Homo sapiens: one gene and its partners. The protein of the gene in region 1 purifies or fractionates together with the protein of each later gene. This does not show direct contact. Each region holds a gene or a part of one and is shown in the gene's direction. Other genes may lie near its edges.

Region 1 (4,163 bases):
GGGTGGGGAGGGGCAGCTCAGAGCAGCTGCTTCTCTGAGGAAGCTGACACCAAGGCCAGCATTCAGCAACAACTTGTGGCTTTGCACCCAGCGCCGGGGTCCCCGCCCACCTGGCTCCCTGCTGTCCCTCTTCCCCACTGCTGCTCGGACTTCCCTCTGACCCTGGTGGCTCTGTGTCTCTGCTCCCTTTCCCCCTAGGTCTAGACATCTGTCCTTATTTCCCCCAGACCTGTCCCCAGAAGTCCACCCTTCCCCATTCCTTTGGTCTGGAGCCCCTGCTTGGTCCAGCTTCCCCAGGCCCCGACACCTTTCTGTGGGGTCTGCCTAGCTCCTGCACGCACACAGCATGGGCCTGATCCTGTTCCCCTCGTGGACAGATGCAGCAGGGCAGAGTGCAGCGCAGACCACAGGCCTCTGGGGCTGGCCACAGAAACCCCGTTGGTTAGAGCACAGTGTGGGATGAGGTGACCCTCAGTGCACGACTTGGGGTGACCCCTGCCCCCATCCTGAGACAGTTACCCCTCCCCCTCTGCCATCAGCACATTCTGTAGCCTCTTGGGTTACTTGGCTGCCTTGGTGTCCCATTTTCTTGGGGGTGGGGTGGGGATTCCCTATCCAGGATGGGGGGGCCCTCAGGGCTCTGTTCCCAGAGGCTGAGTTAGAGCGATGGGGAAGGGGGGGGGCAGTTTTGGGGAGAGACAGGCAGTGCTGGCTTTGCTCACCAGGGCCTGGACACTAAATCCCTTGTTGATGGCTGTGGCAACCCCTCCCTAGGGTAGGGTTACCATCTTCGGCCCTGTCCCCTTGACTCTCTCCCCTCACTTCCCCTTGTCCCTCTAGGAGCCACTCACTTCCTCTAGCCCCCAAAAGATGTTCTCCCTTCATCAGTCCCCCAAAGGCTTGGGGTATCTCTGCCACTGCTTCAGCAAATGGGGTGAGGAGGAAGGAGACTGCGGCAATGGAAACAGGCTCCGGGCAGATGAGGCAGGAAGGGGGGTGTGAGGAAAGGGACAGGTGAGGCCGGGGATGGAAGAGGGCTCCGGGAAGAACTGGGGGGATGAGTTTGGAATGGGAAATTCAATGCAGCTGGGGAAGTCGAGGCAATGGGGGGGCAGGGTCAGTAGCAGATGACAGAAAGTGAAGTCTCTCCCTACCCCACTTCCCTGGGGCTGGGGCTACCTTTGCGTCCCTCATGAGTGACATCTCAGGCTGCAGCCCCACTGTTCCCCCTCTGTCAGCAGAAATATCTCTCTTTTCTGACCACCTCCTGCTGGAGTCTCAGCCAGCCAATCCCTGATCTGGTGGAGGGGGGAGCCCGGCCTCCCCCTGCTCCCTCATAAGGACCAGCTGGGGGCCGGGGGGTGGCCGGCTGCTCAAGTGGGACGGGGGTCAGAGCTTTGTGGAGGGAAGAAAAACCTGGAGGGGGCAGGAGAGTAAAAAGAAGAAACCCAGGCAGACAGGCAGTTGGACACACTGAGGAAGACCCCCCACGAGTGGGAACCCCCTGGAAGGAACACACCGGCCCCGGCCCCCAGGAAGGGAGCACAATGGAGGCCGCTCATGCTAAAACCACGGAGGAATGTTTGGCCTATTTTGGGGTGAGTGAGACCACGGGCCTCACCCCGGACCAAGTTAAGCGGAATCTGGAGAAATACGGCCTCAATGGTAAGTGTCCCTTGGAAGAGCGGCTGGTAATTAATGCCCTCCTGCACCCCCAAAACACACGCACACGCATGCACGCGTTTCTCCCTTCAGGGTTTCTTAAGGAAGAGCTGGGCCGTTGTCCAATGCTCGCAGGGGGAAGAAGATACTGAGAAAACAGAGTCCCGAGATCCAGAGTTTTGGGAGGTTTTAATGGGATGAACTTGATGAACCTCAAGGTGGCCTGATTCTCTTAGCCACAAAGTCTTGGGTGTGGGGGGCATGAGGCTGAACCCCAAATGAATCTGTCCTTTTCTTCTTTTTCCTGGGTAGAGCTCCCTGCTGAGGAAGGTAAGTTACTGGAATCCCTGAACTCTCATAAATGACCACCCCCCACCCCGCCCTGTCCCACTCCCTCCTCCCTGCCTCTTTAGATTCTTTGAGCAAATATCCCTTCCCAAAAGGCAAATCTCCCTCCCTAAAGGTTAGAGTCCTGTCCGGGGCAGAAGTCTCCCAGGCGCTTTCTCCTTGAAGCAGCCAACCCTTGAACTGCCCCCCACTTTGCCGAGTCTGTTTCTGGACTCCAGGCGAGCTTCTTAGCCCTTCTCTGGGCACCAAGCTGTCTGCCCACCACCCTAGAGCCTCCCCACTGCAGGCCGGAGTCCAGGGCGCTCCATCCCAGACCTTCACCCACTAGACCTTAACCCGGGGCCCTCCCCTTGCCTCCTCCCCCAGGGAAGACCCTGTGGGAGCTGGTGATAGAGCAGTTTGAAGACCTCCTGGTGCGGATTCTCCTCCTGGCCGCATGCATTTCCTTCGTAAGTGTGGGAGGGTCTCTGGGGGCTGGCTGGGGGTGTGAGGCTGGGATCGGGCGAATGCGGGGCTCGCAGTCACTGGATCCTCCCGTCCGAGTCCCGAGCATCCCATTGTACAGACGGGGCGGGCTGGCGCGCAGCAGCGGGTGTGATTCGCGTCCTCCTCTCTCCTCCCCTGCACCCCAGAGGCAGGTTTTATTTTAAGCTTTAAGGGTGTTCTCAGCCAAAACACCGAAGCTAAGCCACCCTCGCGGCTTCAAGAGCTTGGAGAGCTCGGGTTACCCACCCGAACTCCGGGCTCCGGGTCCCGCCGCGATGCCGGCTGCGGCGCGGGGGGCCACTGCCACTCCCGGCATGCGCCGGGCGGACGGCCGCTCCACCAATCCCCGCGCCCGTCGGCGCCCCTGCCCCGCCCTCCCCAGCCTCCTGACGCTGATTGGTCGAGGGGAGGACTCGCTCCTAGTGGCGGGAAAGCGCGGCGGTGTGATGATGACTCCAAGGAGCCCGGCGCCCGGTCAGGGAGGGCACTGGCATCCCTCATTACCCGCCCAGCCTGGCCTTAGCCCTTCCCCGCGCTCCCTAGGCACCCCCACCCCCGCAGGGCATCTCCAGGGCTCTGCCTCCTCTCCCGCCCTGGGGGCTACTCCCCATCCCGCGGTCCATCTGCATGTCGCGGGTTCTTCCGCAGCATGTGAGCCTCGCTGGGGACTCTGGAGGCAACGAAAGCCTCCCTGTGCCTTGGTCTCCGAACGCAGGCCCCGTCGCGTTAAGCACAAGCTGGCAGGGCCTCTCCTCTCCCTTCTCAGATTTGCTCCTTGACATTTGCCTGCTGCCTGGCGGTGGCAACAGCTGGGGCGGGGCGCGCGCAGGAGGCCCCGTAACCCTATCCCCGCTCCGGCTCCCTCGTGAAACCGGAGCTTCCCTGCCTTGGCCGAGGGGGAGGGCTGCGGGGGCCAGACCGCCTGCGAAGACCACAGGGTTTTTCCTCTCGGGTTTTGGCTCCCGTGGGATGGATGTGGCTGTGCGGGGGGTTGGCCTGAGCTTCGCTTCTAAGCCAGCAGCTTGGTCAGGGAAACCTGAAAGCATTCCCAGCTAATCCCCCAAGTGGTGCAAGTCTGTGCGCGCCCATCCCGCTGAGTAAGGCGGTGGCAGGACCTGCAGTGGATGGACAGACCCTCAGACGGATGTGGGGCCACAGCGCCCCGACGGTGCCCGGCCCTCCTGCTGGCTCCTGCACTCTCCTGCACAGTTCTCCCCTTTGCAGTGGTCCACTTCCTTTCTCCATCTGTTTTGGGGCCTCATTACCTGTCATTCTCCTTTCCCCTGCTCCCCAGGTGCTGGCCTGGTTTGAGGAAGGTGAAGAGACCATCACTGCCTTTGTTGAACCCTTTGTCATCCTCTTGATCCTCATTGCCAATGCCATCGTGGGGGTTTGGCAGGTTAGCGTTGACCCTTCCTTACCCCTTCATGTCCCAACAGTGAAGAAGAGGCCAACCCTCCCTCCAGTCTCCTCCTCCTCCATCACCTCCCCCATACTTGCCTCTTCCTCTGGTCCTATCCCCTGGTCTGGAATGGGATGGAGTGTGGGGAAGAGGTGGGAGACTGTGACCCACTGTCACTTCCTGGCTATGTGACCCTGAGCAAGTTCCTTCATCCCTCTGAGCCTCAGTTTCTTCATCCATAAAATGGGGCTAGCAATCCAGTGTG
Region 2 (3,500 bases), on another chromosome or scaffold:
TTTGACCCAGCCATCCCATTACTGGGTATATACCCAAAGGATTATAAATCATGCTGCTATAAAGACACATGCACAAATATGTTTATCACAGCACTATTCACAATAGCAAAGACTTGGAACCAAGCCAAGTGTCCAACAATGATAGACTGGATTAAGAAAATGTGGCACGTATACACCATGGAATACTATGCAGCCATAAAAAATGATGAGTTCATGTCCTTTGTAGGGACATGGATGAAGCTGGAAACTATCATTCTCAGCAAACTATCGCAAGGACGAAAAATCAAACACCGCATGTTCTCACTCATAGGTGGGAATTGAACAATGAGAACACATGGACACAGGAAGGGGAACATCACACACCGGGGCCTGTTATGGGGTGGTGGGAGTGGGGAGGTATAGCATTAGGAGATATACCTAATGTTAAATGACGAGTTAATGGGTGCAGCACACCAACATGGCACATGTATACGTATGTAACAAACCTGCACATTGTGCACATGTACCCTAAAACTTAAAGTATAATAATAAAAAAAGAATAATGAATATAAACTATTTATTTTTTTTGATGCAAGACTGTTCAATGCCTAGACCTTATTTTAAAAAAGAAATGAGGGCTGCGTGCAGTGGCTCACACCTGTAATCCCAGTACTTTGGGAGGCCGAGGTGGGCGGATCATGAGGTCAGGAGATCGAGACCATCCTGGCTAACACGCTGAAACACTGCCTCTACTAAAAATACAAAAACTTAGCCAGGCGTGGTGGTGGGCGCCTGTAGTCCCAGCTACTCTGGAGTCTGAGGCAGGAGAATGGCGTGAACCCAGGAGGCAGAGCTTGCAGTGAGCCGATATCGCGCCACTGCACTCCAGTCTGGGCGACAGAGCGAGACTCTGTCCCAAAAAAAAAAAAAAAAAAAAAAAAGAAATGCCATTGATTATGGACACATTACTATATATAGTAAGCATTGTCATTGAGTTCTGTTCAAATCAGGTGGTTTTAAGTTGAAATAAATTATCGTTTCAGAGCTCACAGAGCCGGCACAGATATTTTTATTCCCATTTTCAAGAGCCCTTTCAGAGAAATATATATTGATGTTAAAATTCCTAAGAGCAAAATTACATTGCATAATTTTAAAAGTTAGTGAAAAAATGTTGGGCTTTGATTAAGTGACAAAACCCTTCATGATTTAAAATTTGGGAGTACTCACAAATGTTTTAAAAATAAAAATAGATTGCATTTGACAGATTTAATTCAATTTTGCTTATATTGTTTTTTAATATGATTTTTCCCCCCTTGCAGTTTCCGATCATGTGATCCTAACATGTTTTCACTGTATAATTCAGGAACAGTATTACCAACAAGAAAATTGACTGTAGAAAATTATAAAGCAATGCTTGATTTCCTTCTTACAGCCAAAAAAAGAAAGGCCAACTTACCATCAGGTAAAATAAACATGTTAGTTTATTATTAAATTACCTCTAGATTTTTATTCACTAAACAACACAGCACACATACACATTGTGGACACACAAATGTATACACCCAGTTTTCCAAAGGACCAGCAATTTAGTTGAGTTTTGATATTTTGTAGGAGATTCTTGTTTGCTCTATTTTAAAAAATTTCTATATTCTTATGATATTATTGCATATATTTGGAAATATCTATTTTGTATTTTAACCTTAGCCAATTAGATTGTTCAGCAAATATAATGTTTTAAATTTAATATTCATAGCCTTTGGTGGTTCAAGATAGGTGAAGACTTGCTATTGGGTATTATGTTTTAGTGCAAATAAGTTCCCAAGCAAAATCCATCAAACATACTAATACAAGCAGTCACCCAAACTATCATGATAGCTGATTTTGTATTCAGGGGAATCCACCATTGCCCTAGGATTTCCAACCAGCATCTTCCAAGAAAGCTCACTCTAAGATGAATGAAGCCTTGTTATCTAGTCAGGTGACAGGGGGCTCCAAAAGGTAGAGACATGCAGGTAAACAGGGTTCTTTTTTTTTTTTTTTTTTTTTTTTTTTGGAGACGGAGTCTCACCCTATCACCTGGGCTGGAGTGCAGTGGCGATCTCGGCTGGCTGCAACCTCCGCCTCCTGAATTCAAGCGATTCTCCTGCCTCAGCCTCCCCAGTAGCTGGGATTACAGGCACGTGCCACCGCGCCTGGCTAATTTTTTGTATTTTTAGTAAAGACGGGGTTTCACTATGTTGGCCAGGCTGGTCTCCAACTCCTGACCTTGTGATCCACCTGCCTCTGCCTCCCAAAGTGTTGGAATTACAGGCGTGAGCCACTGCGCCCGGCCGAAAACAGGGTTCTTGATCAGGGTGTGCTCTGGAAACTGTAGTCTGACGAACCTGACTAATTTCCACACCCCTTTCCTGCAAAGATGATGGAACCTGGACACTTTCTAACCAATGATATGGTTCATTTCACAAATAAAAATTTATTTCTAATGCCTTTAGGCTCTTACATACTCATATAGACTTTTAGTAATGACATTTTAAGTGCTATGGGATTTATTGCCAACCAGAGTTCTTGGTATGCCAGTTAATGCCCCAGGAGTGTTGATTTATGTTTGAGGGACTTGGCATGCTTTCTGACTTCTTCTAGGATATAGATTAGATTTCACAGGTATGTGCATATCATACTGTGTATAGTGAAGTATTTGAAAGTGAATTCCATAGCCATAGAGTCTGGTTTTTGAATATAGATTTTAGTATACAGCTTCCTGAGTTTTTCTTTTTTTAAAACTGGCTCTCTACCTAAGACCTACCATGAAATTGGCAATAGAATATTTTGCTACCGAGACTTACTATCTAATGCAGGGTTCTAAGAGAAAGTTGGTGGCAGGAGAAAGCCTTCTTTTTTATGCCACACCAGGAGGGGAATGCGTGGCCGAGGTTGCTGCATTGCCTAACTCCAGAGGTGCAGCTCACTTTCTGATATATTGTCTTAGGAATGGCCTGTTTGGGAGGAAATGAAAGGACAGTAGTATTTTCTATTTTTCCTTTCAAAAAACATGTACATTCCTACTTCTGCATTGTTCCTTTTGCCATCGACTTTGTCTGAAATGACGTTCTCTGTATTTCCCCATATAGCTAAATGATGCCCATTCTTTAAGACCCAAATACCTCCTTCTCTAGAAACTTTCCCTGGTTCATTGTATCTCTGATAGTCTTGTCCTTTCTCCAAGTTTATGTAGCATTTGTTATCTGAATTACTCACTTGATCCTTATCACCTACTGTGTTTTCTGGAACTTAATTCTATGTTTTTAATCATGTCATATCTTATTTTTGTACTGTAGATGCTGAAGAATTTTCTACATTTATTAATTCCATAATGAGTGATGAAAATATGTCCAAGACACAAACAGTTTATGACTCAGACTCTCAATCAGGTTCTAGTGCTAAAGAAAAGGACCGAGGAGCAAATTTGTGTGTAATGGATCATTTTATGAAAATCTTTTTATACTGCAGGAGAGCAATGGTAA
Region 3 (3,500 bases), on another chromosome or scaffold:
GTTTGAGCTCCTGAATAGATGGAAGTATCATTTCCTGAGATTGAGAAAACAAAGTTTTTGGTGGAAAATGGTGCACCAGAGGTTGTTTTGGGGTAAAATTAGTTGGATATGTCACATGTGCAGATGGGAGTCTAGACCTGAGAAAAGAGGCCTGTGTTGAAGTTGGTCAACTAACAGACATTTCTGGAACTCCCATGAGACATTGAAGAGTATAGGCAAAGTCCAAAGTCTCTGTTCTTGAGGAGCTTACATGTAATTCTAATGGTACTGGCATTATTTGAGAGGCCTTGGCACATCACATTGAGAGTCTTTAGCACATGAAATTGAAAGCCCTGGGAGTTCATTTTGGAGAAAAGTAGAAGAGGACAGTGGACCAATCCCTGAGGGCCTCCAACATTTAGTTCTTTTATAAAAGAAGAGGCCCAATAGAGAGGTAGCAAGAAAACATGAAGAGGAGTATCACAAAAGCCATAAGAAGAGGTGTTTTTCAAGAAATTGGTTTAGTAAACTGGATTGAGTGCTTCTGAGAAGTCCCCTAAGATGAGAACTGAAAAGTGTCTATTGAATTTGACAACATGGAGATCATTGGTGACCTTAGAAAGAGCAGTATCAATGGTTGCAGAAGCCAGATTGGATTGAGTTGAAGAATGAAGGGTAAGTAAGAAAGGGGAGATGGCAAGTTTGCCTAAGTCTTCCAGAAGAAAGTCTGACTCCCTTTCAGAAAGCAAAGATAGAAATAGGATGTTAGCTAAGAGGATCTGAAGTCAAGGAGGGTTGATGTAGGGAAGGAGAGCTTGAAAATACAGGAGAGAGGAGAGATATCCAAAGGAATAAAGTCCCTGAGAGTCCAAGTGGGAATGGACTCCTGGTAATTGCAAAAGGGATCCCACATTATAGGAGGTGGGAATCTTCCTCTTTGTAGCTGGAAAGAAGGAGGTGAGGATGGATGCAGGTACCAGGTATTTGTAGATTTGGTGGGGAAAAGACAAGGGAATTCCTATAGGATTGTTTTGTCAGGCTAGGATAAGGGAGATAGGCTTGTTATGCTTAAGAAAAGCTGGAGATGAAGATGTTTGAGAACAGTGGAGAAGGTAGAGTAGATGTTGACAGTGGGAGATTGAGAAAACTATTAGTGCTGATGAACATTAATGTTAATGATCACGATGACATTATGACATAATGGTGGACATTAATGTTAATGATTATGAATCTCTAGTATTGCCATTCTGCCTGATGGCGTGGTTTTAAAATGTCTCCTTGTTTTACATTTAAGCAATTTCTCTAGTTATTTTTCAATTTATAGAAACAAATCTAAGCATATCTGAGACAATTTTTGTGAACCGAAGTAGAGCCTTTAGTTTTAAATCCCCTTTATACTAAAGTCATTCCTGAGTATTAGCAACTCTTATTGGATGAATTTCCTTTATGAAATTTGTACTTCATTTAGATATCATACAGTTTTCAAAGTAATTCTAAAACATTGAGTTGAATGTCTGAATGATTTATCAGAACTTTAGATGAGTTGGGCCACATTTGGTTATAATAATACAATCAAAGCATTCCTATTTAAAAGTAAATGAAACTTGGCCGGGTGCAGTGGCTCACACCTGTAATCCCAGCACTTTGGGAGACTGAGGCAGGTGGATCACCTGAGGTCAGGAGTTCGAGACCAGCCTGACCAATATGGTGAAATCCCGTCTCTACTAAAAATACAAAAATTAGCTGGGCATGGTGGTGGGCGCCTGTAGTCCCAGCTACTTGGGAGGCTGAGGCAGGAGAATTGCTTCAACTTGGGTGGCGGAGTTTGGCAGTAAGCCAAGTGGCGCCACTGCACTCTCAACCTGGGCGACAGAGTGAGACTCTGTCTCAAAAAAAGTAAATGAACCTTAAGAGACAATGAAAACTATAATCCTGTTTTCAAAAATTAGTAATACAATCTAATCTGTTCTGTTGTCTTTCTTATAGGAATAATTTATGATGTTATTGTTGAACCTCCAAGTGTCGGTTCTATGACTGATGAACATGGGCATCAGAGGCCAGTAGCTTTCTTGGCCTACAGGTAAAAGATACCTTTTTGAATGATTTGGTGGTGGGAAAGAAGGTTGCTGTGGTATGCCCACTTATTTAAAAATAGAGTAAAACCTATGGGATCCATGTGTATTTAGACAACAGCTGTTTTAAAATGCTGGATTCTGAAATGGCAGAAAGTGAGTCAAAAACAAGAGTATATTATTTATTTATTAAGAAATAAAGTATTTCATAATGATGTATCACCAATTTACAGTAGGGTGTCAGTTTAAACTACATTTATAGATTGTTCTGGGGGTCAGTGAACTATAGCTGCTTTTTTTTTCTTTTCCCCAAAAAAGTTTTATTGGAAGTAAGTATGCCCATGTGTTTTATATGATCTATGGCTGCTTTTAAGCTAGAGTGGCTGAGCTGAATAAGTATGACACAAACCATATACCCCACAAGCCTAAGATATTTACTATATGGGTATTTAAGAAAATATTTTTGGACTATACCCTGGTCTATACCATTAAATAACAAAAGTATTTTTGAGACTTTGAGGGTTCTGTTTCATCAGTGAAACCCCGTTCCAGTGTGGTTTTGTTCACCTGAACAATGCTTATATTGCTTTCTAAAATTTACTTAATATCTACCAAAACATAGCTATATGTTTATATTTGCAGTAATGCTATTTATGCATAGAATATTTCTGGAAAGATTTATTAGTATTCTCTGTGGAGGGGAGTTAATGACAGGTTGATGGTAGGGTGGCTCTTCATAGTGCCCTCTTTCACACTGTTTGAATTTTGAACTTGGTACATATATTGTGTTTTCAATGAAAACAATTGACCAAAAAAAAAAAAAAATACCCTGTTTACATATGCCTATGTATAATCATCCCTTTAACGAGAAATTTTCTTCTTGAGGTCCTTGAACTATGAGAATTTGATAAAAGCTCTGTATCCCTAGAAAAATCACACACACACACACTTTTACATATAATTAGAGGGGTTTGTAGTTCACTGAAGTTCTTATGGGACCCATGGAGCCTTATTTAAGAACAGTTTCTTTTTAAAATATTTCCATTTGAAACAAGAAGTTTATTATTATTAACATAAAACTTCAAGAAACACATCTAACCAATTCAAAATTAGTTTGAATTGATAGTAGAAATTTAAATAGCATAACTTTTTAAAAAAAGCTAACCTAGACCGGGCGCAGTGGCTCACGCCTGTAATCCCAGCACTTTGGGAGGCCGAGATGGGCGGATCACGAGGTCAGGAGATTGGGACTATCCTGGCTAACCCGGTGAAACCCTGTCTCCCCTAAAAATACAAAAAATTAGCCAGGCGTGGTGGCACGCGCCTGTAGTCCCAGCGATCTGGGAGGTGGAGGTTGCAGTGAGCCGAGATCGTGCCACAGCACTCCAGCCTGGGCGACAGCAAGACTCAATCTCAAAAAAAAAAAAAAGCTAAGCTAAAGTTCTGGGT
Region 4 (3,500 bases), on another chromosome or scaffold:
GGAGTTCCCAGGTAGCCTGTGGGCTCAGAAGGATTCCTGAGACTGAGAGCAGTTTGAGTTGAAATGTTGGCTTAAATCTTGATGAATGAACATTTTCATATCCTGTTTCTAGGCCTGAGGGTTTTGTTGTTAATGTTGTGGTCTTTCTATTTTATGTCTCAACTTAGTGGAACAGGCAGTGTTGAGAAGTCAGGTATCATGGATTCTGGCCTCGGCTTTGCCATGGACCAGCTGTGTCACTTTGAACAAGTCATGGAATCATAGTAGGACTTTAGAGCAAACTTAGAGACTTGAGAGGAAACTTAGAGAAGAGCTGACCAAACCTCTTAGGTGTCAAAATAAGGCAATGAGTGAGGGTAGAAATGAGGTGAAGCAGAAAGGGTCTGCATGAGGTCAAGGCCCAAGGTCATCTGCACATCCCTGCAAAACACTGCCTGCCTGTGCTTTGGTTTTTGAGTCTGTAAAATGGACAATTTAGAGTAGATGGCCTTAATTATTCGTCCATCCACAGATTTCACGTTTCTGTTTCTACCCTGTACGTCAGTTGGATTATTTAATTTTCTGTGTAGTAGATTCTACCTGACCAAGTTCAATAAAGAAAATAAGTGTGTCTTTCGTCCTTAGAGTTTCATTCCAGGGCTTTATATTACAAGTTGGCAGTGGAGCAGCTGCAGAGCCATCCCGAGGCACAGGAAGCTCTGGGCCCTCCTCTCAACATCCATTATCTCAAGCTCATCGACAGGGAAAACTTCGTGGACATTGTTGATGCCAAGGTAATGTGCTTTCCCTGCGAACCGCAGGCTGGTGCCTGCTGAAGGAGAGGAGAGTCTACTGTCTCCTGGAAAGTCCTGGAGTTAAGGATTTGGGATGGGAAAATCCACTAAGTAAAGCTAGGTTTGGCACCTTTAAAAAAAGTTTTTCTATTATGGATTTTAATGTTTATATAAAATATATTTTATATTATAGATATTTCTGTATACTTTTCTTCCATTCTGGGGAATTGATGTGGCAGGGAATGCAGTGGGTATGCTGATGTCGCCATCTTGAATTGAAGGTAGTAGAGAAATGACCAGTGGTGGTTTGCTACCATGTTGGCTTTGATAGCTCTCAGCACTTTGGGAGGCTGAGGTAAGAGGATTGCTTGAGCCCTGGGGTTTGAAACCAGCCTGGGCAACACAGCAAGACCCTGTCTCTCTCTCTCTCTCTCTCTCTCTCTCTCTCTCTGTCTCTCTGCCTGCCTGCCTGCCTGCCTGCCTGCCTGCCTATCTATCTATCTATCTATCTATCTATCTATCTATCTATCTATCTATCTAATCTATCTATCTATAATTTAGCCAGGCGTGATAGTGCACACCTATAATCCCAGCTACCCAGGAGGCTGAAGCAGGAGGATCGCTTGAACCCAGGAGTTGGAGGCTGCAATGAGTTATGATCATGTCACTGCACTCCATCCTGGGTGACAGAGTGAAATTGTCTGTAAAATTAAAAAAAAAAGAGAAATGCATCTATATCCAGTCAGTGCTCATTCAAATGTACCCAACTCTTTAAACTTTGATTTTTAAAGTGTATTTATTTACATTGCTTCCACAGAATACCAACCCATTTTTTTAGCTATAACTTATCTTTTTGTACTTGATCACACTCACTTGCATGTAAAACACATTTGTTCTGTTTAACAAACATATTTTGAGTATATGCTCTGGTTTGAGAAATGATTCTAAGCTATGTGGGGAATAGAGGTGCAGAAGGCTTTTGGGGGTTTACAGTTGAAAATTCCTGAGTAAGACAGGGTGAGGGAAACCCTGTCACTATTGTGCAGGCCTAGGGGAAGTGGCTCGAGGCCTGGGAGATGGCTGTGAGGACTTTGAAAGGTGGAGAGGAACACCCGGCTGAGGAGCAGCATGCCTGGGAAAGTTCATCACTGTGTCGCCTGTCAGTGTGATACGGCAGTGGAGGCACAGGTGGGCGAGGTGGGTGTGGGCAGGTAGGAGGGGCTGCGGCCACCAGGGGCCACAGTGTCATCTTGGAAGGTGTGTGCTTGACTCTGGCAGCAGAAGCCCGTAAAGTATTTGGAGGATGAGTGAGGTGATCCGACCTACATTATTTTTTGTTATTTTTAGTATGTTCTTAATGGACCCAGCTCTAATGAGACTTTTTTCTAACTACAAAAGCAATTCATGCTCTGGTATTCTGATTAAAATATTCGGTTTTAAAAGAAGGTGGATTTGTGTAGATTGGTAATGCCCAGGGACTGGCTACGGGGAGCCATCTTTAGGAGAGAGATGTGGCCACACTGGTGTGCAGTGGTGAGAGCATGAACCAGAGGTGTGGCCTGGAGAAGCAAAAGACGGATGTGAAGCCATCGTGGCATCCAAGTGACAGAACTTGGTAACAGTCATGTATCAGGAGCGGGTGGGTCAGAGGTGATGGTCCAGTGTCCAGCATGGACGTGAGTGGAAGGACGGCAGCGACACTGCGTGAGAGAGGACATCCTGGAGGAGGAGCACAGGGAAGGGCTGGGCATGTGTGGAGTGCTCACTCTGTGCCAGGCCACCGGATTGCTCCCATGGTGTGGCGGAGCCTGTCTGTTGCTTCCTTGCCTTTGGTCACTTGGCTAGACCCCAGCAATCCTGAGAACTTGGAAAAGCCACTGGGTAGGTCTGGCTGTTGCGTTTCTCTCAGCACAGAGCCCAGCTGTAGCACTGAGGAATTGTGTGCCAAAGGCGCCTTTGCTGGGGCTGGTTGATGCAGCATCCATGATCTGGTGCTCCAGGAACCCCAGTGAGAGTAGGGTAAGGCCATGGTGGTTTTGGTGGGAGCTTTGTCCTGTCCAGCTTTCACTTTGGCCCCAGTGGTGCTGAGAGGGCGCCTTCCTGGGCTTCCCCACATCCCTGGGGCCTTGGCCATGCTGTGACTATGTTGGTTGTGGTGCTAGGTTCTGGCTTCTACTGCGGCCAAATGCTGTGACTCTGCAGTGACAGGAGTTCAGAGTCTGCTGCATCATGGCCACCTGGAGCCTCAGTGCACGCCTTCCAATTTGTGGACTATTTTTGACATTCTGTCAGGGTCCTTTCTTTATAATCAGCGGTTTGTGAGGATGCCTGTATACAGCATATGCCCTCTTATCCCAAATTCCTTTATTTGCAATTTTTACAGTTTTTCCAGAGGTGAGATGTTTCAGTTGTTCATGAAGTAATTGTCATACATTGGGATTTTTTCCCAAGTATGTGTGTGAGATAGTCACCAGTGACCAACACTTTGCTTTACCAGAACTCCTGCTTTAATCTTTGGCAAGGTCTGGCTGGTGAAGGAACCAACCTGTAAAGTGTCACATCTACCCATGGAAGCACAGCTGCCCACAGTTCAGACATTGGCCCCTCAGAGTTTGCTCTTCTTCAGAATCCTTCTTGCTTCTGCCCATTTCTTTCTCCTTCCTTTTTAAATTTTTTTTTAAAGCATCCAGAGATGCTCAGTGTATACTCTGTTGCTTAATTCTATAA
Region 5 (2,609 bases), on another chromosome or scaffold:
CCACCTTCCCCCCGCCACTACTCTTCCCAGTAGTCTCTGGTAACCATCCTTCTACCTTTATCTCCATGAGTTCAATTGTTTTGATTTTTAGGTCCCTCAAATAAGTGAGAACATGCGATATTTGTCTTTCTGTGCCTGGTTTGTTTCACTTAGCAGAATGACCTCCAGTTCCATCCATGTTGTTACAAACAACAAACTCTCATTCTTTTTGATGGCTGAATAGTACTGCATTTTGTATAAGTACCACATTTTCTTTATCCATTTATCTGTTGATGGACATGTAGCTTGCTTCCAAATTTAAGACATTATTTGTAAGAACCAAAAACTAGGGCCTGGCACGGTGGCTCACACCTGTAATCCCAGCACTTTGGGAGGCTGAGGCGGGCAGATCACGAGGTCAGGGGATCGAGACCATCCTGGCTAACATGGTGAAACCCCATCTCCACTAAAAATACAAAAAAAAATTAGCCTGGTGTCGTGGCGGGTGCCTCTAGTCCCAGCTGCTAGGGAGGCTGAGGCAGGAGAATGGCATGAACTCGGGAGGCGGAGCTTGCAGTGAGCCGAGATCGCGCCACTGCACTCCAGCCTGGGCGACAGAGCGAGACTCCGTCTCAAAAAAAGGAAAGTACTTTGACAACAGAAGTCTGTGTTGAAATCTAAAACCTCTATTGCTTGTTCTTATCAAAGTAGCTATCTAGGTAGCATGTTCTCTGATGCAGGAGCTGACTTCTGTTTTTTCAAACCTCTTTCCCTTTAGACGTTTTGGAATAATGGGACTCTACAAAGGCCTTGAAGCCAAACTGCTGCAGACAGTCCTCACTGCTGCTCTCATGTTCCTTGTTTATGAGAAACTGACAGCTGCCACCTTCACAGTTATGGGGCTGAAGCGTGCACACCAACACTGAGACGCCTTCCCATGAAAAATTCCGAAGATGCTCAAGAGGGAGGTTTCCTCCTGAGTGAAGAGAAGTGATTCTCCCTTGACTCTGGCTCCTGCCACCACAAATGTTACCCTCATTGGCTTGAAAAGCATCCAAGGGTGCACAGGGAGTATGGCCAACTGGACCTGTTGTCACCTTAATTGTCATGCTGGCTGGTTGGATTTTGGGGTGGCAGTTGGACTAATGTGAAAAAAACATTGCTGAAAACCTAAAAATGAAAGTTTGTGAGTGTTTATTGGTTTTCTTAAGAGAAATGGACTATTTTGCTCTCATGTGTAATGTTTTCTATTTAAATCTTTCTTAAATATACCAGCTGTTCTCTTTCCCTGAACTCTCCCCCAGGTTCTAGGACAAATTTAATAACATGTAATTCTCCTCAAATACTTTTGTATGTCTCAGTGTTGGTGTTTTCCTCCCTAAAACTAACATTAGGGCTGTGCCACGGGCATGACTTTATTTTTGTTGGGCTTTTTTTTCCCTGCTTAAGGAGAGGTGTCTTTTTTGGATATGAGCTATTTATTTTGTGAAATGAAAATTGTTCACCCAAATGATTCTCTTATAAACTATTTGTAAATGTCACTTATTCATTAGTGTTTGACATAATTTTTAGAATATTTATTTTGAATCAATCCTTTCATTACGAAAGACTTGAAGTTTTGTGTCCATTCTTACAAGCCCTGGTCAGTCAAGTCCCAATAAATGGTCAGCACAAAAAAGATATTCTTGAAAATTGCTCTTTATTAAGGTATTACGTTGAGTTTGCAACCAGATGGGAAAAATCACAAAAATGAGAAGGGGAGCAGATATCTTGTTGAGGTCTGGATATTATCTCCCTTTATAAACTTGGTGTAGGCCGTATATTTTGAAAATAAACATCTGGTTGAGGTTATTTCATTTGGAAACCTTCCTTAGAGTCCTGTTGCTCAGTGTGGTCCATCAGACGGTAGTACTGCCACAAGCTGAGAGCTTGCTGGGCACGCAACCCAGAGTTTCTGAATCCTGTTCCGTATTTTAACATTCCCAGGTGATTCACAGCCACATTAAAGTTCAGGAGACCATAGGACCCCTGACCCATGAGAAGAAGTGATTGGTTTCGATTATAGACATCAAGATAAAGATTTTTCTCAAAGGAAAGAGATTAATGTATTAAAACAACCTCTGAAAAATCTAGGAGTCGTATGTCATCTTTTGCTTTCACCTCACAGCACGTTGTTAAGGTGGTAAGGCTTTTATTATGCGGCCAGGAGTGGATTTAGATATCTCGACCCACTCAGGAAGCAAATTCACTTGACATTAGCAGAGCGGTTCTTTGGATTTCTATGACTTCCTTTTTGTCCCTATGACAAAATGGCGGGTTTTTCATTTGTAAGTCCATGATTTAGTCAGAGAGAGTAATAATGAAATACTTCATTATTAAGGATTTAGTTCAATTTTGAGAGTGGAAATTTCCTTCTCTTATTTCCTCTCTTTAGTCCCTGTGGTAATTTCAAAGTATATGATTGTTAAAGATCATTGCATTGTTCTAGCAAACAAAAATTAGCAGGAGCTAATAATCTGGGAAGAAGACTGAACATTCATCCCCTATTTAAGTCAGAGAATTGAAGACAGAATTGTTTTTTCTATTTTTTAATTTTACTTTAAGGTTTTTGTGTGCCTGTGGCAGACCTT
Region 6 (3,500 bases), on another chromosome or scaffold:
ACAAATTGTCCTCCCTGAGTACCCTGTGTTTCTTTTTTTCTGGGTACTTTGATCACTTTCTTTCTTTTTGGCATTCTGCAGTTTCACTATGACATGTTTAGGTGTCAGTTTTTGTTGATTCTGCTTGAGACTTGTTATATGTCCTTTGAATATTTGAGTTTTTCAATCATTCTGGAAGATTCTCAGCTATTAGCTTTTCAGATATTGCCTGACTCTCATTCTTTTTTCCTGTTCTTCTAGAACTGGCAGCCAGTGCTGGACTTCTGACTCTCTTCGTTGTGTCTTTCGGTTTCTGTTTACTGTTTCCCATCTCACACTGTCTGTGCTGAATTCTGGGGATGCCCTGAGGCCTTCCTGTTTGCTCATTTTCCAGTTCACCAGTTTTCTCTTTGGCCATGTCTAATTGGAATTTTGTTCACATTTCAGTGGCTGTTTTGTAAGTTCTATTTCATTCTATTTCAAATAGGAATTTGAAAATGGACATTTCCTTTTTCAAGTAGAAATGTCAGGCTGTTTCTGTGTCTTATTTGCTCATCTTTTTGACTGCTCCTTTTATACTGTGTATCAGGTTAGTCATACTTACCCCACCGTCTCTATCTGATGGTTTGGTTAGCTTCAGTTCTTGGGAGTATCATTCGCCTGTCTTCTGTCTGCTGGTCTTCACTCATGGTGGATCATTTCCTTGTGGGTTTTGCAACAGAACTTCTATGGGGATTGGTGTGGCCTCAATGGAGGGTGTAAGTCCAAATGTCCTTCTGTTTTGGCCAAGCACTCCAGGGTAAGCAGTTGGAGGCCATTAGTTAGTGCGGAGGGGATGGTTCCTGAATTGAGAGGTGGTTTCATTTGAATTCATTTGAACTCCAGGCACATTGTTACAAATTTTCAGAGGAGGCTTTTTGTTCATTGGGCATAGAGCCCAGGCTAAGCAAGGAAAGCTTCCTGGTCTTTGCCCTGCCTGCCTCTGGGGCTATCAAAGGATCACCTGGCTGTCTGCTTCTCTTTGCTCCCAGAAGTTTCCCTTGCTTTCCGTCAAGCTTGGCTCTGCTCGAAATAGTGTCGTAGTTTACCCAGTTTGGTGGGAAGAGGGTTTTCGATTTATAAACAGAAGTCTGATTCTCTCCCTGTTCCTGTTTCCACCTCGGGGCTTCCATGCCCTCAACTGTCTGTGTCATCCTCTGGGTGACTCACCAAGAGGAAGGATCTAATTCGGGGACTGCACATCAAGGGCAGCCTTGATGCTGGCGTAGGTGCCCAGCCCAGTCAGCGCACCTAGCCCCGGGCACCGAGACAGCCCGCGAGACAGCACCTGCAGCCGCTTCGCTCCATGGCTGCCATTGGTCACATCGGGCTGCTCCCTGCCCTGAAGGCTTAGGACTTTTCTGAGCCTCTGCTGTGCCAGGCTTTGTGGGCTCCTGGCCCTGCTCTGGTGGTCCTCAGAGCCAGCAGCCTTTGAAGGCTGTGAAGCATTCCCTTTCCCCTGGCTTGATAGGCTCTGTCCTGTGGCCGTCTGTTTTTTTTTGGAGGGGGAGCTTTTGAGATGGAGTCTCACTCTGTCTCCCAGGCTGGAGTGCAGTGGCACGATCTTGGCTCACTGCAACCTCCATCTCCCGGGTTCAAGTGATTCTCCTGCCTCAGCCTCCCAAGTAGCTGGGACTACAGGTACACGCCACCATGCCTGGCTAATTTTTGTGTTTTTAGTAGAGATGGGGTTTCGCCATGTTGGTCAGGCTGGTCTTGAACTCCTGACCTCAAGTGATCCACCTGCCTCGGCCTCCCAAAGTGCTGGGATTATAGGTGTGAGCCACTGTGCCTGGTCCTGTGGCCTTCTTATTTCCCCAAATGCCAGGCCTGCTCTGTCTTGGGGCCTGTGCCAGGAGCACTCTTTCCTCTGCTGCCCCATGGCGCAGCCCCCCTAGGCAAGGCCCGGCCTGCCCACCGCCACCTTTCCTGTCTCCTTCCCTGCCCCACTGCTCTCCCAAGCACTCGACACCCCGTCAGTGGCGCTTTTCTCTCTCCCTGCCATGGACTGCAAGCTCCATGGGGTCAGGGATTTTTGTCTGTTTTGTCCCTGCTGTGTCCCCTGCATCGGGTGGCTAGTGAGGGCTCCAGGTGCTTCAAGGAGGTGGAGCGCACTGGGTGGGAAGGCAGGCTCTTACCGGTTGGAAGATTTAGATAAGCTTTGCTGGGCTGGTGTGCAAGGCAGGTGGGCTCAGGAGATGGGCAGGGCCTGTGGCTCCCACTCCAGCCCTGAGGCCTTGCTCTGTCCAGCTCTGGGGCCCTGGCCTTATTCACCCAAGGCTCCAAGAGAACCTGCAGAAGGCAGCTGGTTCTACGCCAGGATGCCCTGGGCACAAAGACTTGCAGACCCTTCCCTTTGTCCACAGCGACTGTCCAGCTCTCAGAACACCTGGGGAGGAGGGCTGTGTCCTTGAGAGCACCGTGGGAAGGAAGGTCCAAGGCCTTCGACCTTTAGGATTCACATCCCCGCCCCGCCAGCCCAATCTAGTTCCCTGGTTTCCCGGGCCAGGCCCCTTTCCACCCTGCATGGCCCTGAGCGGATACTGCGTTCCGTGTCTTCCCCCAGCCCCCAGCCAATGATCCCTGAGGCTTCCCCCTCAGGATCACACCCACCCCTGGATACAGTCCTCGGGTCCTTCACAGGACATTCCCACCACTTCAGCCACACCCCAGCACCCTCAGAGGCGGCCTTCGCCCTTGCTCCCCACCTCTGCTCCTGTGGGGAATCTAAGGATCAAGAAACTGAGAGTCAAGGCCATTGATGAGGGTCAGGGGTGCTGCCACGGGGCCTAGAGTGTGACAGAAAAGCAAATTAAGACAGGAGCAGCTCCTGGGAGAAGCAGACACCAAACAATACGGCTGCTGGCCCAGAGGTCAAAAACCATGGCCTAGAGGGGGCGGTCAGGAAGTGGGACATTAGGCCGGGCGTGGTGGCCCATGCCTGCAATCCCAGCATCTTTGGAGGCCAAGGCAAGTGGATCACCTGAGTTCAGGAGTTTGAGACCAGCCTGGCCAACATGGTGAGACTTCGTCTCTACTAAAAATACAAAAAAAATTCGCTGGGCTTGGTGGCGGGTGCCTGTAATCCCAGCTACTCGGGAGGCTGAGGCACAAGAATCCCTTGAACCTGGGGAGGCAGAGGTTGCAGTGAGCCAAGATCACACCACTGCACTCCAGCCTGGGCAACAGAGCAAGACTCCATCTCAAAAAAAAGAAAAGAAAAAAAAAAGAAAGTTGGCGTTTCAAAGCCAAACAGCTCTGGGCGTTGGATGACAAAGTTCAGATGTGCCCCAGGAGGGGCGACATCAGTGGTGCAGGACAGAGGGCCGGTGGAAGGAGCTGGCTGTACGTAGAAACAAAACCAGATGCCTACTGGTGCATTTAAAAATCAACGTTATTGAGACGTAATTAACATACTATACAATTCTTCCTTTTCCATGTACAGTTTAAATTCATTCACAGAGTTGTGCAGCCATCATCAC
Region 7 (3,500 bases), on another chromosome or scaffold:
GGCCGGTCAGCCAGGGAAGGGCCTCTCAGAAGATTCTAGAAACTCCCGAGTTGCACAGGCAGCCCTGAGCCCTTTCTTTAGTGACAGGCGGCTCAGATTTCATGTCACACAGCCCATATCGTCAACACCACCATTCCCCTGATTGTTTTGTTCTTACCACACTTGTTTTTCAACAGAGAATCCAGGCCAGAGCCTGAACAGACTATTTCAGGAAGTACCGAAACGAAGAAATGGGTCTGAAGGTATGTTGCAGGCAGGCGTTTTCTTTGCAGTCAGTCACCTAGGGAAGCAGCATGTCCTTAGCTGTGTATTTGGGTTAAAACTGTGCAGTGTGATTCTGGCCTGGAACCTGATGGAAAAACAGCTAGTAAGTATAAAACAAGGCACGGGTTCAAGCACACCCAGCCCCTTCCTCCCGAGCTGCCTGCCCTCTCCCAAGCACAGGCGGGGGTGAGAAGAGGCATTGCTAAGCTAAGCCCCCCGAGTCTGAATCCCAGCCCACTTCAGATCCTAATTACCCGGTCCCCCGTTTTTCTCAGACGCAGTTGAAAAAATAACAGCGGTTGCTCTGAGAAAAGTCAGGTGACCCGTCAAATTAAATACTGCTGCTTCCTCGTATTTTTAACTCGGAAACACACTCAAGGTCCTATGGAACGGACGCATCCCACATCGTCCCGGTGGCATACTTGTTTTTAAATGGTGGTATACTTGTTTTGAATGCAGTGGTTCCTATTTAGGAAGGTAGTAAGAAATTAAACTATCCGGGTGGCTTCCCGAAAGAGCTGGGGCCAGCCCCTGGGCCATAGTAGCCTCATTTCGTCGGCACGTGTGCCTGCACAAAACATCACCATGTGGCCGAAAGAATCCATCCTCCCCACTTAGGAATTTCTGCAGGCTCCTTTCCTCGTATGTAAATTTTAAAAAGATATTATGTGATAATAGGTGCAAACAATTTTTTAAGTTAAGCCTTTCTTCACCCTGTGCCTCTGAATGATTGATAGACAATCAGCCTCAAACCCTCTGCCCTCCTTTTCCGTTTATCCTGTGTGGGACCCCAGCATCCAATAAACATCTAACCCCGAGGAGAGTCAGTCCCAAGCCACAGCAGTTGCTTCTAAGTGACTCATGAGAAACATTGCCTTTTAATCACTCGCCTTTTATATATATGGATTAAATGATCGGTTCTCCCGGGTACTAACCCACGGGTGGTGTCCGGCTTTGGCAGAGTAACATTGACCGTAAGGTCAAATGAGCAGGAAATCCCTCCTGCCCGGTGTCGCTGTGAAGTTGCACTCACAGCAAACACAGGCCACTGGGAGGCCACATCTGCCTCCTTGTGTCACCAGCCCCCACCCGGGGCTATATATCAGAATGACGTCTTCGCGCAGCGCTGATTTTTGTCCGGGGTTTGGGTTTGATGTCATTGGCGCAACTTCTCCCCACAGGTAACATCACCACCCGGATCCGAGCCTCGGAGACTGGCTCTGATGAAGCCATCAAGTCCATCCTAGAGCAAGCCAAGAGGGAGCTCCAAGTGCAGAAAACTGGTACAGCTTCCATTTCTTCATCCACTGTCTTCAAACTTAATTAAGAGAATTGTCATGAGTGCTCTGGTCAGCAGTAATTAACTATTTTTTTTTTAAACAATAATGAATGCCTGTTCTCAAGCATTTAGGCACGTAGAGAGAAGCAGGTCTGTGTGATCTGTATTTGCCTAATAGTTACCTTTTTTTTTGAGATGCAGTCTCTCTCTGTTGCCTGTGCTGGAGTGCAGTGGCACGATCTCAGCTCACTGCAACCTCTGCCTCCCGGGTTTAAGCGATTCTCCTGCCTCAGTCTCCCGAGTAGCTGGGACTATAGACATGTGCCACCATGCCCATGATATTTGTGTTTTTAGTAGAGACGGGGTTTTACCATGTCGGCCAGGCTGGTCTCGAACTCCTGACCTCCAGTGATCCTCCCACCTCGGCCTCCCACGGTGCTGGGATTACAGGTGTGAGCCACCGCGCCTGGCCCCTAGTTGTAATTATTCACAGAAATTACGCTCCTTAACTTTGACAGAACCACTTGCATTTCAGAATATAGCACAGGAAAATGAATACCAAGTATAAAAATTATCAGAGGTCAGGCGCGGTGGCTCACACCTGCAATCCTGGCATTTTGGGAAGCTGATGGGGGAGGATGACTTGAGTTCAGGAGTTTAAGACCAGCCTATGCAACACAGTGAGAGACCTTGTCTCTTAAAACACTAGCCAGGCATGGTGGCATGCACCTGTGGTCCCAGCTACTTGGGAGGCTGAGCTGGGAGGATTGCTTGAGCCAGGGAGGTGGAGGGTGGGTACAGTGAGCCGTGATCGTGCCACTGCGCTCCAGCCTGGACAACAGCGAGATCCTGTCGCTAAAAAAAAAAAAAAAAAAAAAAAAAAAAATTCTCGGGGAAAGGAGCCCCAGGAGGGCAGGTCGGGGAGCACTTTCACTGACACCCCCTTTATTACCCTCTACATCTGTGTGTATACCAAAGGCCACCAGGTCATCAAGCTGTAGTGTCAGGCCCTGGTCCTTGGTTGAGACAAGATGCCTGAATGTTTCACTGACAGGGGCCATGCTGGGGAAATACACAGTGTGGTTCTCCCAAATAACCCACACTTTGCAGTAGGTCAAGTTAGGATGAGAAGCATGTCCCCAGCTGAAGGGGGCCGCCCTGCCACACTCTCACCCCTGTTTCTCCATGCAGCAGAGCCGGCCCAGCCTTCCTCCGCATCCGGCAGCGGGAACTCTGATGACGCCATCCGCTCCATCCTGCAGCAAGCCCGCCGGGAGATGGAGGCCCAGCAGGCTGCCCTCGACCCTGCCTTAAAGCAGGCACCACTGTCCCAGAGTGACATCACCATCCTCACCCCCAAGCTTCTGTCCACCTCGCCCATGCCCACCGTGTCCAGCTACCCACCTCTCGCCATCTCCCTGAAGAAGCCCTCCGCAGCTCCTGAGGCCGGTGCCTCTGCTCTGCCGAACCCCCCGGCCCTCAAAAAGGAGGCCCAGGACGCCCCCGGGCTGGACCCCCAGGGAGCAGCCGATTGTGCACAAGGGGTCCTGAGACAGGTGAAAAATGAGGTGGGCCGCAGCGGTGCCTGGAAGGACCACTGGTGGAGCGCGGTGCAGCCGGAGAGAAGAAATGCCGCCTCCTCCGAGGAGGCCAAGGCCGAAGAAACGGGCGGCGGGAAAGAGAAGGGCAGCGGTGGCAGCGGAGGTGGCAGCCAGCCTCGGGCCGAGCGCAGTCAGCTCCAGGGACCCTCGTCGTCAGAGTACTGGAAGGAGTGGCCCAGCGCTGAGTCCCCATACTCCCAGAGCTCAGAGCTGAGTCTGACCGGGGCCAGCCGCAGCGAGACACCACAGAACAGCCCCCTGCCATCCTCCCCGATCGTGCCCATGTCCAAGCCCACCAAGCCCTCGGTCCCCCCGCTGACCCCCGAGCAGTACGAGGTCTACATGTACCAGGAGGT

What was found.
Region 2: the proteins of ATP2A1 (region 1) and CFAP54 purify together in Homo sapiens (co-immunoprecipitation; one large-scale study listed by IntAct). This does not show direct contact.
Region 3: the proteins of ATP2A1 (region 1) and OSTC purify together in Homo sapiens (affinity purification with mass spectrometry; one large-scale study listed by BioGRID and IntAct). This does not show direct contact.
Region 4: the proteins of ATP2A1 (region 1) and COA1 purify together in Homo sapiens (affinity purification with mass spectrometry; one large-scale study listed by BioGRID and IntAct). This does not show direct contact.
Region 5: the proteins of ATP2A1 (region 1) and SLC25A17 purify together in Homo sapiens (affinity purification with mass spectrometry; one large-scale study listed by BioGRID and IntAct). This does not show direct contact.
Region 6: the proteins of ATP2A1 (region 1) and ABCD1 purify together in Homo sapiens (affinity purification with mass spectrometry; one large-scale study listed by BioGRID and IntAct). This does not show direct contact.
Region 7: the proteins of ATP2A1 (region 1) and CUX1 purify together in Homo sapiens (affinity purification with mass spectrometry, with the first as the bait; one large-scale study listed by BioGRID). This does not show direct contact.

What each region holds. Positions count from the first base shown.
Region 1 is NC_000016.10:28,877,125-28,881,287, forward strand, and holds the start of ATP2A1 (sarcoplasmic/endoplasmic reticulum calcium ATPase 1), read left to right. Parts: upstream 1-1,363; 5' UTR 1,364-1,547; coding exon 1,548-1,665; intron 1,666-1,832; exon of another isoform or gene 1,833-1,974; coding exon 1,975-1,992; intron 1,993-2,364; exon of another isoform or gene 2,365-2,376; coding exon 2,377-2,459; exon of another isoform or gene 2,460-2,797; intron 2,798-2,918; exon of another isoform or gene 2,919-2,970; intron 2,971-3,790; coding exon 3,791-3,895; intron 3,896-4,163. UniProt on the Homo sapiens protein: Key regulator of striated muscle performance by acting as the major Ca(2+) ATPase responsible for the reuptake of cytosolic Ca(2+) into the sarcoplasmic reticulum.
Region 2 is NC_000012.12:96,646,577-96,650,076, forward strand, and holds part of CFAP54 (cilia- and flagella-associated protein 54), read left to right. Parts: intron 1-1,298; coding exon 1,299-1,441; intron 1,442-3,314; coding exon 3,315-3,496; intron 3,497-3,500. UniProt on the Homo sapiens protein: Required for assembly and function of cilia and flagella.
Region 3 is NC_000004.12:108,653,599-108,657,098, forward strand, and holds part of OSTC (oligosaccharyltransferase complex subunit OSTC), read left to right. Parts: intron 1-1,965; coding exon 1,966-2,059; intron 2,060-3,500. UniProt on the Homo sapiens protein: Subunit of STT3A-containing oligosaccharyl transferase (OST-A) complex that catalyzes the initial transfer of a defined glycan (Glc(3)Man(9)GlcNAc(2) in eukaryotes) from the lipid carrier dolichol-pyrophosphate to an asparagine residue within an Asn-X-Ser/Thr consensus motif in nascent polypeptide chains, the first step in protein N-glycosylation.
Region 4 is NC_000007.14:43,642,524-43,646,023, reverse strand, and holds part of COA1 (cytochrome c oxidase assembly factor 1 homolog), read left to right. Parts: intron 1-624; coding exon 625-773; exon of another isoform or gene 774-778; intron 779-3,500. UniProt on the Homo sapiens protein: Component of the MITRAC (mitochondrial translation regulation assembly intermediate of cytochrome c oxidase complex) complex, that regulates cytochrome c oxidase assembly.
Region 5 is NC_000022.11:40,769,130-40,771,738, reverse strand, and holds the end of SLC25A17 (peroxisomal membrane protein PMP34), read left to right. Parts: intron 1-757; coding exon 758-905; 3' UTR 906-2,109; downstream 2,110-2,609.
Region 6 is NC_000023.11:153,731,356-153,734,855, forward strand, and holds part of ABCD1 (ATP-binding cassette sub-family D member 1), read left to right. Parts: intron 1-3,496; exon of another isoform or gene 3,497-3,500. UniProt on the Homo sapiens protein: ATP-dependent transporter of the ATP-binding cassette (ABC) family involved in the transport of very long chain fatty acid (VLCFA)-CoA from the cytosol to the peroxisome lumen.
Region 7 is NC_000007.14:102,198,626-102,202,125, forward strand, and holds part of CUX1 (Homeobox protein cut-like 1), read left to right. Parts: intron 1-176; coding exon 177-242; intron 243-1,445; coding exon 1,446-1,547; intron 1,548-2,734; coding exon 2,735-3,500. UniProt on the Homo sapiens protein: May be involved in intra-Golgi retrograde transport.